Linked DNA regions of Homo sapiens: regions 2 and 3 are each linked to region 1. Evidence: fine-mapped expression QTL. A gene starts in region 1. Each other region holds a variant in brackets. All regions are shown on one strand. Distances are from middle to middle.

Region 1 (2,760 bases):
TCCCAGGTCCCCACCCCCATGAACTCAATTTTGCTCCACCTGGGTTACCATAGCATTGTCAAAGTTACACCCAGCTTCTCAGGTCCTGCACTGATAGGATGGTCACAGAGCAGAGAAACTGCTGTCTTTGGTCCTTGAGCATCTTCAAAGTCTCCTTGGTCAGCTATGCAAGTCCCTCCCCTTCTTAGAGGGCCTTTGGGCAGGGGTTGCCCTTGTACCTCAGTTTCTGGGTTAATGACAAAAACATCTTAGCTGTGCAAAGCAGCTTTTTCCCCATCCCCCTACCTCTCTCCTCCCCCCTCCCTCCTCTACGCCCCCTCCCTGTCCCTTGGGAAAAAAAAAATCAATTCTGAGTCACCAAACCCGTCTGACTCCATTTCCGGTTCTCAATGCACCCAGACCCTGACAATGGCCCCATCTTTGCCCACCCAGCATGGGGCAGCCCCAGGGTGGCCTGGGCTCCCACTTAGGTCTGCTCTCTGATGCCCATTAACAGATATGCTCCTTTCTAGGATGAGAAGATTGTTGACAATCTTATATAATATCCAGATTATGAGGGGTCGTGGGTTAGGCACGCAAGAGACAAGGGGCAGCTCCCACTCTAAGTCCGTTAAATGCAAGTGCGGGGAATGATGGATAGAACGAAACTGGGAGTCGGATGTCTCAGAGGAGAACAAGTGTCATTAGAGACCCCTCCGTGCAGTCTCCTCCTCCACCTCTTCTCACTTGCAAACTTCTTCAGGGGCGTGATGCCTGCTGTCACCCCGAAAGGCCACGAGGCCAGGTGCTCCCTGGGGCCCAGAAGACAAAGATCAGAAGAAGGGGCTGTAGGCCCGCTCACTAAGGCACTCAGGGGCCTAGAGAAGGTGAGAGTAAGAGCAGAGAGCCAAGAGGCAGGGCAAGAGGCCTGGGAAAGGACAGTGGGTTGGAGGCATGGATGGATGGACCGAAGGATGGAGGGAGGGAGGATAGATGGATGGACGGACGAACTAACGCGGAGAGGGCGGGGGTCTAAAAGCACTGCAGCTGCAGGCAAATGCCGAAAAGGAGCAGGAGGTGTGGGGCAAAAGGCGAAGGAACAAGGGGGGTGAGGAAGGGGGCACAGAAGTGGGGTGCGTGGGAAACACGTGGAGGACTGTTGCGGACAGGGAAAGCTGGAGGCAGGTGCAGGAGGGTCGCGAGCTGAGGGGCAGCAGGCAAGGAGAAAGATAAAGGCAAGCCTATATGGGGGCAGGTATTAGCGACTGGCAGAGGCAGAGGTTGGCAGGGTGGGCTGCGAGCGGTGAGCAGGCGCTAGGACCCGGAGGCGCGAAGGTGACGGAGCGGGCGGGCACTAGGACCCGGCGGGTCCTTTGTTTGGGGGGCCGGGGAGCCGGACGGCGGCTCCAGTCGGCGGCTCCCCTCAGCTGGCGGGGGCCCGGAAGGGGGGAGGGGAGATAGTGATGGGGTCCCCGGACTTTAGGGTGGCTTTACTCACCGTCAGCCGCGGGCAGGTCGGCCCGCTCCACCCACGAGCTCCAGCTCTGTCCCGCGAAGTCATCGAGACTCGGCACCCGCCGCTCCAGAGCGGCCATTGCTGCCGCCGCGCGTTCACGCACCGCCATCACCGCCGCGGACGCGCGCCCGCCCTGGCGCCGCCGCCGCGCGGCCCCCTCCCCCTCGCCCCGTCGCGGGCACGCCTCCCCTCCTCCCCACCTGCCTTTCCAGCGCAGTCTTTGCGCAAGCGCAACACAGGTTGCCTGTTCCCCGCGCCCCCCCCCCCCCCACCCACTCACAGCCTTCTGGGAAGTGTAGTCTTGGAGCGGATGCTATTGCCTACCGAGCTTGCAGCAAGAGTCCCTCCGAAATGCACAATTGCAGGGGGAAAAGAGAAGACCAAAGCTCCAGGACCTCCTCTTCTAACCCTTATGCACACATTATTTGTGCTACCAGTCCACTCTCCCAAGCTCACTGCATCTCTCCCCAGCCCCAAACCTCTCTGCCCAGACGCCCCTCTAAGCCGTGCGTCCGCCAGCTGGCTGGCGCCCCTTCCCGGGCTGGCGGCCACGAAGCGACTCCGCTCCCCTGTAGATCGAATAGGGTAGGTGCAGGGAGGTGGGCGCTGTGAATCAGAAGGGCAAGGGGAGGGAGTCTGTAGGAGGTGCTGAAGGACACAGGGGTGGTGTGGGGGAGGGCCTCGGCTCCCGTGTCGTGCCTCCTCTGTGGGAAACCCACGCTGCCCTGATGCAGAGCAGAGGGTTGGCGTGGCGTTGTCTGGATTTGAGAGGACCTGGCCAAGCTGACCAAGATCACCTGTCATGATGACAGGATGACAGAAGGCTGTCTCCGAGCCAGAGCCAGCCCCAGAACTGGGGTGGCCCCGAGGCAGCTGGTGTTTGCAGCATCTCTGCTGATCTGTCTCTCTTCTCTTGAGAACTGCGATCGATACCCTGTACAGCCTCTTCCCAAACCCTGGCTGGACCCTGACTCCATCCATCACTTTGCCTTCTTTTTCTAATGAATACTTTCTCTGCTGGAAGGGCTGCTTCTGAAGCCTCGGCATAGGGAGATTTCTCATCAGAGCTGTCATCTTCCTTGCTAAGGTCTGGAAAGTACCTTAATCATCCATTTCTTTCATCTTCTCAGCTGATAACATTTCTTCCCACCCTCACACAATCAGACAAAAGTCTGCCTACTCCATTTCCCGCCCCCCCCCCGCCGCCATCGCATTAAAAAAGTAATACTAATCCTTTTTCCTCCTCAACCTCTCACACCTCACCC
Region 2 (2,760 bases), 110 kb after region 1:
TTATAAGTCTTAAGAAAAAAGCATAATCATCCACATTTATTAGAAATATATACTGAACTATTAAACTGTCTAAGAAATGGGGCTTGGGTGGTGAGCATGTGGCCTGGAAAAGAGAAGGATCTTCACTCTTTGCTATATAGACTCTATATAGTATGTAATTTCTATATGGTTTGAAATTTTTGCCAAGTGCAGTTATTACCTCTTTGGAATTTTTATTTTTTTTATCAGTTACAAAAATTATAGAGAACAGACGATTGTATTAATACATATAATATTAACCTTGAATATCTCTATGTGGTAGGATTATGAGTGACTTATCTTTATTATGCGTTCTTATAATTGTCTACATCTTCTTTAATGAATATATATTATTGTATAAGTAGAGAAAGGAAGTATTTGAAAAACAAAACCCAAAACCACCTACAATGATTATTATAACTATATTTTAACATGCTTACTATATTTTGGATATAATATACCAGCTTTCCCTTTTTTACCTCCTTACTCTCACTGCAACTCTAGTAAGGTTGTTTTATTATTATCATTATTACTATTGTTATTAAATAAAAAGGTGAAACAAAGGCATTTGCTTCTTGCTTCTGCCCGTTGTCATTTTTGAGTGAGCTAGACTAGAAGTAAAAGGAATCCAGTTACGAACTTTTCAGCTATACTGTAAAGGATGCCCAGAAAAATTTAAATTATGTTGATTTGGTTACAATTACGCCTGCCAGTGTGGGCTATGATCTTTTGTTTTAAAGCATCCTAAAAATACTTTGCTATACCTTTATATTTAGTTCTGTTGGAGAAAGCAATTAGATTGTCCCATCTCCCATCTCCCCATCTGGTGCAGTAAAGAAAACTCATCTGCTTGGCTTACTTTGTGTTAGAGAGAATTTAAATTTCCAAGTTATTTGTGATTCACATTAAGTAGTTAAATCCCATCCCTCCCAAATTTTGTACTGGGAATCCATACCCACTTTGTAATTATGAACTTAATTACTCTGAACAGTAATAAAGTTCAGATATTTAAAGAAGCCAAAGATTGAAGGAGAGTGGCTGTCATTTCTAAATTAATTTTTTTTCCCCTTATAGCATGTGTTTGATGATCTCAGAGGCTCAGTATCCTTGTCCTGGGTTGGAGATAGCACTGGGGTAAGTCATATTTTGAGTCTGTTATTTCAGCCCAGCAAGAAGATGATAACAGATTTGGGGAAGGGTTAAGCACCTAATATCATTTCTTCCTGAAACTGTC[T/C]TTAGCCTCAATCACAGAAAACACATGTTTGCAAGACAGACTTTCAGGAAGTTGTAGTTGTGTTGGTTTTGCTTTAGAATTGGGAACATCTTTTTTGCGGGGGGGTGGGGACGGAGTTTCGCTCTTGTTGCCCAAGTTGGAGTGCGATGGCATGATCTCAGCTCACTGCAACCTCCACCTCCCGGGTTCAAGCGATTCTCCTGCCTCAGCCTCCCAAGGAGCTGGGATTACAGGCACCCACCACCATGCACAGCTGATTTTTTGTATTTTTAGTGAAGATGAGGTTTCACCATGTTGGCCAGGCTGGTCTTGAACGCCTGACCTCAGGTGATCCACGCGCCTCAGCCTCCCAAAAGTGCTGGGATTACAGGCATGAGCCACTGCGCCTGGCCGGGAACATCTTCTGACCACCTTCTTCCACGGTGGGAAGATGGACACCTTTTCAGTCCTTGGTGGCTGCTTAGCATCAAGATGAGCAAGAAGAAAGATGAAAGTGCTCTGTACTGAGAAGGGAAGCGCACAATGCTTGGGGAAACCCCTATATAGAAACAGAAAATGTCCATTAAAAACATCCTGGCACTTTTCCTCCAAATTGTATTGTTCCTGTGTCCTTTCCTACAGGTGTGTTGAGGGACTGTGGTGCCCATGGGCTCATGGTTGTTCATCTGTTGGTCCCTGCCCCTGCCACAAAGGAGGTACTGCCAGGATTGGGGGAATGGAAGGAGGATCAGTCAGCTCCTTATCCCTCCTGATATACAGCTGGGCTCCCACTAGGAGGACACGCTGAGGATACATTGGCCCCTGGTCTTAAATCAGGACTTGTTGCCTGGCTGTCTTATTATCCTGCTTGAACAAGAGCAGGGGCAACATCTCCTGCCCCCTGGTATTCCATAATGCATGTGTCATAGCATTGAGGCACATGATAGTTATATTAGAAGCCTAAAGAAATAAAATCTTGGTGCTGAAAAGCAAATTGTAAATTTCTTATTTTGATTAATTTTTAAACTTTCAGTAGAATTTCTTTAAGCATAGTTCAGTTTTTTCTAAAATTTGAGTTGTACCCTAATTTCCATGATTTACCCATTTATCTTAGATAGTTGGTATCTCCAAGAATTTTTTTTTTTTTTTTTTTTTTTGAGACAGAGTCTTGCTCTGTCACCCAGGCTGGAGAGCAGTGGTGCAATCTTGGCTCACAGCAACGTCCACCTCCCAGGTTCAAGCAATTCTCATGCCTCAGCCTCCCAAGAAGCTGGGACTACAGGCAAGCACCACCACGCCCGGCTAATTTTTGTATTTTAAGTAGAGATGGGGTTTCACCATGTTAGCCAGGCTAGTCTCGAACTTCTGACCTCAAGTGATCCGTCCGCCTCAGCCTCCCAAAGTGCTGTGATTACAGGCGTGAGCCACCGTGCCCAGCCATCTCCAAGATTTCTCATATGGCTTTCTGAGACTCCCTAGACTCTTATAGTAATCCATCCAGAATCATTTCCTCATGCATAGTTTTTGGT
Region 3 (2,723 bases), 21 kb before region 1:
AGTTCTGCCACCCCATTCCTCCATCGAGAGGTCTTTGCAGTTGTGGTTGTGAGGCCAGAGGAACTTAAGAAGAATGAGCTCAACATTCCATTCCATCCAAGGTTGCAGAATACTTTGAGTATGGAGATGACCGATCCCTTTAACCTTTCCCTTTGACTACACTGCATGCCCTGTGAGTGGCTGCTCTGAGCTTTGGCGGGGGATGAGCAGGGTGAAGGTGAAAATGTTCTCTGATGTTGGTTTTTCTTAGGGTCTCTTCTCTCCCACGTTTCTAGTCCATTGGAAGTTCTCCAGATCCTCTAGATTTCTGACCTCTTTTTACATTCTAAGAGGTGTCATTTACCTGTGGGTGAGGGGCTTGGAGGGCCTGACTATTAAGCTTCCTATTATGATTGGGGAAGGGGACTCAACATCTTCCCCTTGTCTGGTCCTGGGAACTCAAGACTGCTGTCCATCCTTTATTAGTAACCTAGTTTTGTTGAGAGAGAGGTGCAGCATTTCCCTCAAGTACCTGCATGCTCATAGGTATGCATGCTTATAGGTATGCATGCACACCAGCACCTTGACTTCCACCAGGACAGTGAATCTGTAGTCCCCATTAATGATACTCTCAGAATGGTCTCCACCAATGTGCACAACTTCATGCACACAATTGTATTCCTCTTTAGGAGAGACAGTGACCATGCCAGGCTCTTCAAATACACACTCCTGTATTTTCATTTCTGAACTCCCTGAAGCTTCACCCACATCTCCATGGCACTGAATCACTTTTCTGCCCAGGCTGGAGTTAGAAGAACCATGGGTTGAAGGCCTTGGGAGAAGAGGTGGTAAGGAGCTACCTGGTTCTTTGGACTCCTCAGAAACCTCCCGTGAAGACTATATATATGAGCAATATATGAGCAATTAAGATAGAACTAGGTCATTGAAGGACTCAGAAGGAAACTGGCAAGGGGCTAAGTAGCTGTGAGCTGCTCTTCCTGTTAACTGTCCTCAGGAGAGAAAAGTTGTCTTGATTTATTCCAGAGACTCCTGAGAATTTTGTTACTGGAGCTATAGGAACTAGGACTCCCTCCTCAGACTCATCAGGAAATCTGGGAAAATCTCATCTCCATGCTGCAGTCTCCCCGCTTGGCACCATCTAGGGCTCTGAAGATCTTTAAAGTGAGCGTTAAATGAAGCAGGCCTTCTGGGGCATCGTGATGGAGCTCCTGAGGACTGGGAGGGCCGTTTTCTTCATAATTCCTACCCAGTTTAGGGAATGAGAAAAGGCCCTGTGGCTCTTAAGTCTCCTGACTATATCCACTAGTTTGGCCTTGAGTTTGAGACACCTGGTAGATGTACCTGGCTGCCCTA[C/T]CAAGAGATTTGATTTGTTTCTTCCCGTGGTTTCAGGTGATAGAACCCAAAGGTAGCTTTTTAATTGGAGAATTGAATAATCAGCATATGTAAGCGCACTAGAACCCTGTGTTGAAAACTGCCAGGTGTGGGTATAAGAAAAGGCCGAGAGATCACCACCTCCTCTTACCCTACCCCACACCCATAAACCAGACATGTCTCCCAGGAAGCAGGTGTCCCTGGAGACAGAGGATGACAGGGCTCTACAATCTGTGTAATTATTATTATTATTATTATTTTGTATTTATGGGGCCCAAGAAAGGGGCCAGGAGAGGGTACACCCCAGCTGGGGAGAGCAAAGCAGATGGATCCAGTTTTCTGTGTGTTCTTACCTCTGTACTTCCTCGTAGCTCTGCTGACAAAGCAAGCAGGCCTCCCGTGTCCAAGACCCCATTCCTCCCACTTGTGTACACCTAGGCTGGCAAATCTTGGAGCCTCTGGGCTCTGAAAACTAGACAATGATCATTAAACCTGGCTTGAGTCTCTGTTCTGGCACAATCTGACTGGTTTATTTTTTCAGCCTGTGGGTGGGGTTCACTGTACCTCAGAAGGGTGTGTCCTATCTAGGAAGAAAATCTTTAAGTGCTATTGTACGGACATGGGTGAAATACACATCTAGGCATTAAGATGGACCGGGGTCAGCAAACATTTTCCCTAACGAGCCAGATAGTAAATATTTTAGGCTCTGCAGACCACACAGTCTCTGTTACAACTCAGCTGTGCTGCTATAGCTTGAGTGTAGCCACAGACAGGACAAAAATGAATGACTGTGGCTGTGGTCCAAAAAAGATTTGACTTATGGACATTGAAATTTGAATTTCATATTTTAACATGCCTTTTGAGTTTTTCCAAGCATTAAAAAATATATAAACTAGGCCGGGCGCGGTGGCTCACGCCTGTAATCCCAGCACTTTGGGAGGCCGAGACAGGTGGATCACAAGGTCAGGAGATCGAGACCATCTTGGCTAACACGGTGAAACCCCGTCTCCACTAAAAATACAAAAAATTAGCCGGGTGTGGTGGTGGGCGCCTGTAGTCCCAGCTACGCAGGAGGCTGAGGCAGGAGAATGGGGTGAACCCGGGAGGTGGAGCTTGCAGTTAGCCAAGATAGCGCCACTGCACTCCAGCCTGGGCAACAGAGCAAGACTCCATCTCAAAAAAAAAAAATGTTATATATATATATATATATATATATAAACTACTATTAGCTCACAGGCCACATAAAACCAGGCAGTGGGCTGGTTTGACCAACAGACCATACTTTGCTGACCCCTAAGATTCTCAAATGTCACTGAAGCTTTAGAGTTTAGAAATCCCATGACTTGGCGCTC

Direction of the effects. Alleles are on the strand shown, and positions count from the first base shown. SD is a standard deviation of normalised expression in the study named. Not every link is listed here.
With allele T in place of C in region 2, the expression in aorta of the gene that starts at base 1,653 in region 1 is higher (moderate effect, 0.59 SD a copy in GTEx).

Evidence for each region. PIP is the estimated chance that this variant, and not a neighbour inherited with it, causes the effect.
Region 2: its variant is the best candidate, but not a certain one, in a credible set for the expression of ATXN7L2 in aorta (GTEx, PIP 0.79).
Region 3: its variant is the best candidate, but not a certain one, in a credible set for the expression of ATXN7L2 in whole blood (INTERVAL, PIP 0.87).

The regions. Positions count from the first base shown.
Region 1 is chr1:109,482,798-109,485,557 of GRCh38, reverse strand. It overlaps ATXN7L2 (ataxin 7 like 2), which reads right to left and starts at 1,653. Exons shown (of 11, transcript NM_001350175.2): 1 at 1,478-1,653. The coding sequence starts at 1,604. RefSeq lists enhancers at 944-1,563, 1,564-2,181 and a silencer at 1,581-1,750.
Region 2 is chr1:109,367,922-109,370,681 of GRCh38, reverse strand. It overlaps SORT1 (sortilin 1), which reads left to right. Exons shown (of 20, transcript NM_002959.7): 2 at 1,093-1,152. Among named protein-coding and RNA genes, the nearest start is that of SORT1, 29 kb to the left of the region's middle. The variant T/C (reference allele first, on the strand shown) is at 1,253.
Region 3 is chr1:109,503,342-109,506,064 of GRCh38, reverse strand. AMIGO1 (adhesion molecule with Ig like domain 1) reads left to right here. Exons shown (of 2, transcript NM_020703.4): 2 at 1-1,887. Among named protein-coding and RNA genes, the nearest start is that of AMIGO1, 5.0 kb to the left of the region's middle. The variant C/T (reference allele first, on the strand shown) is at 1,354.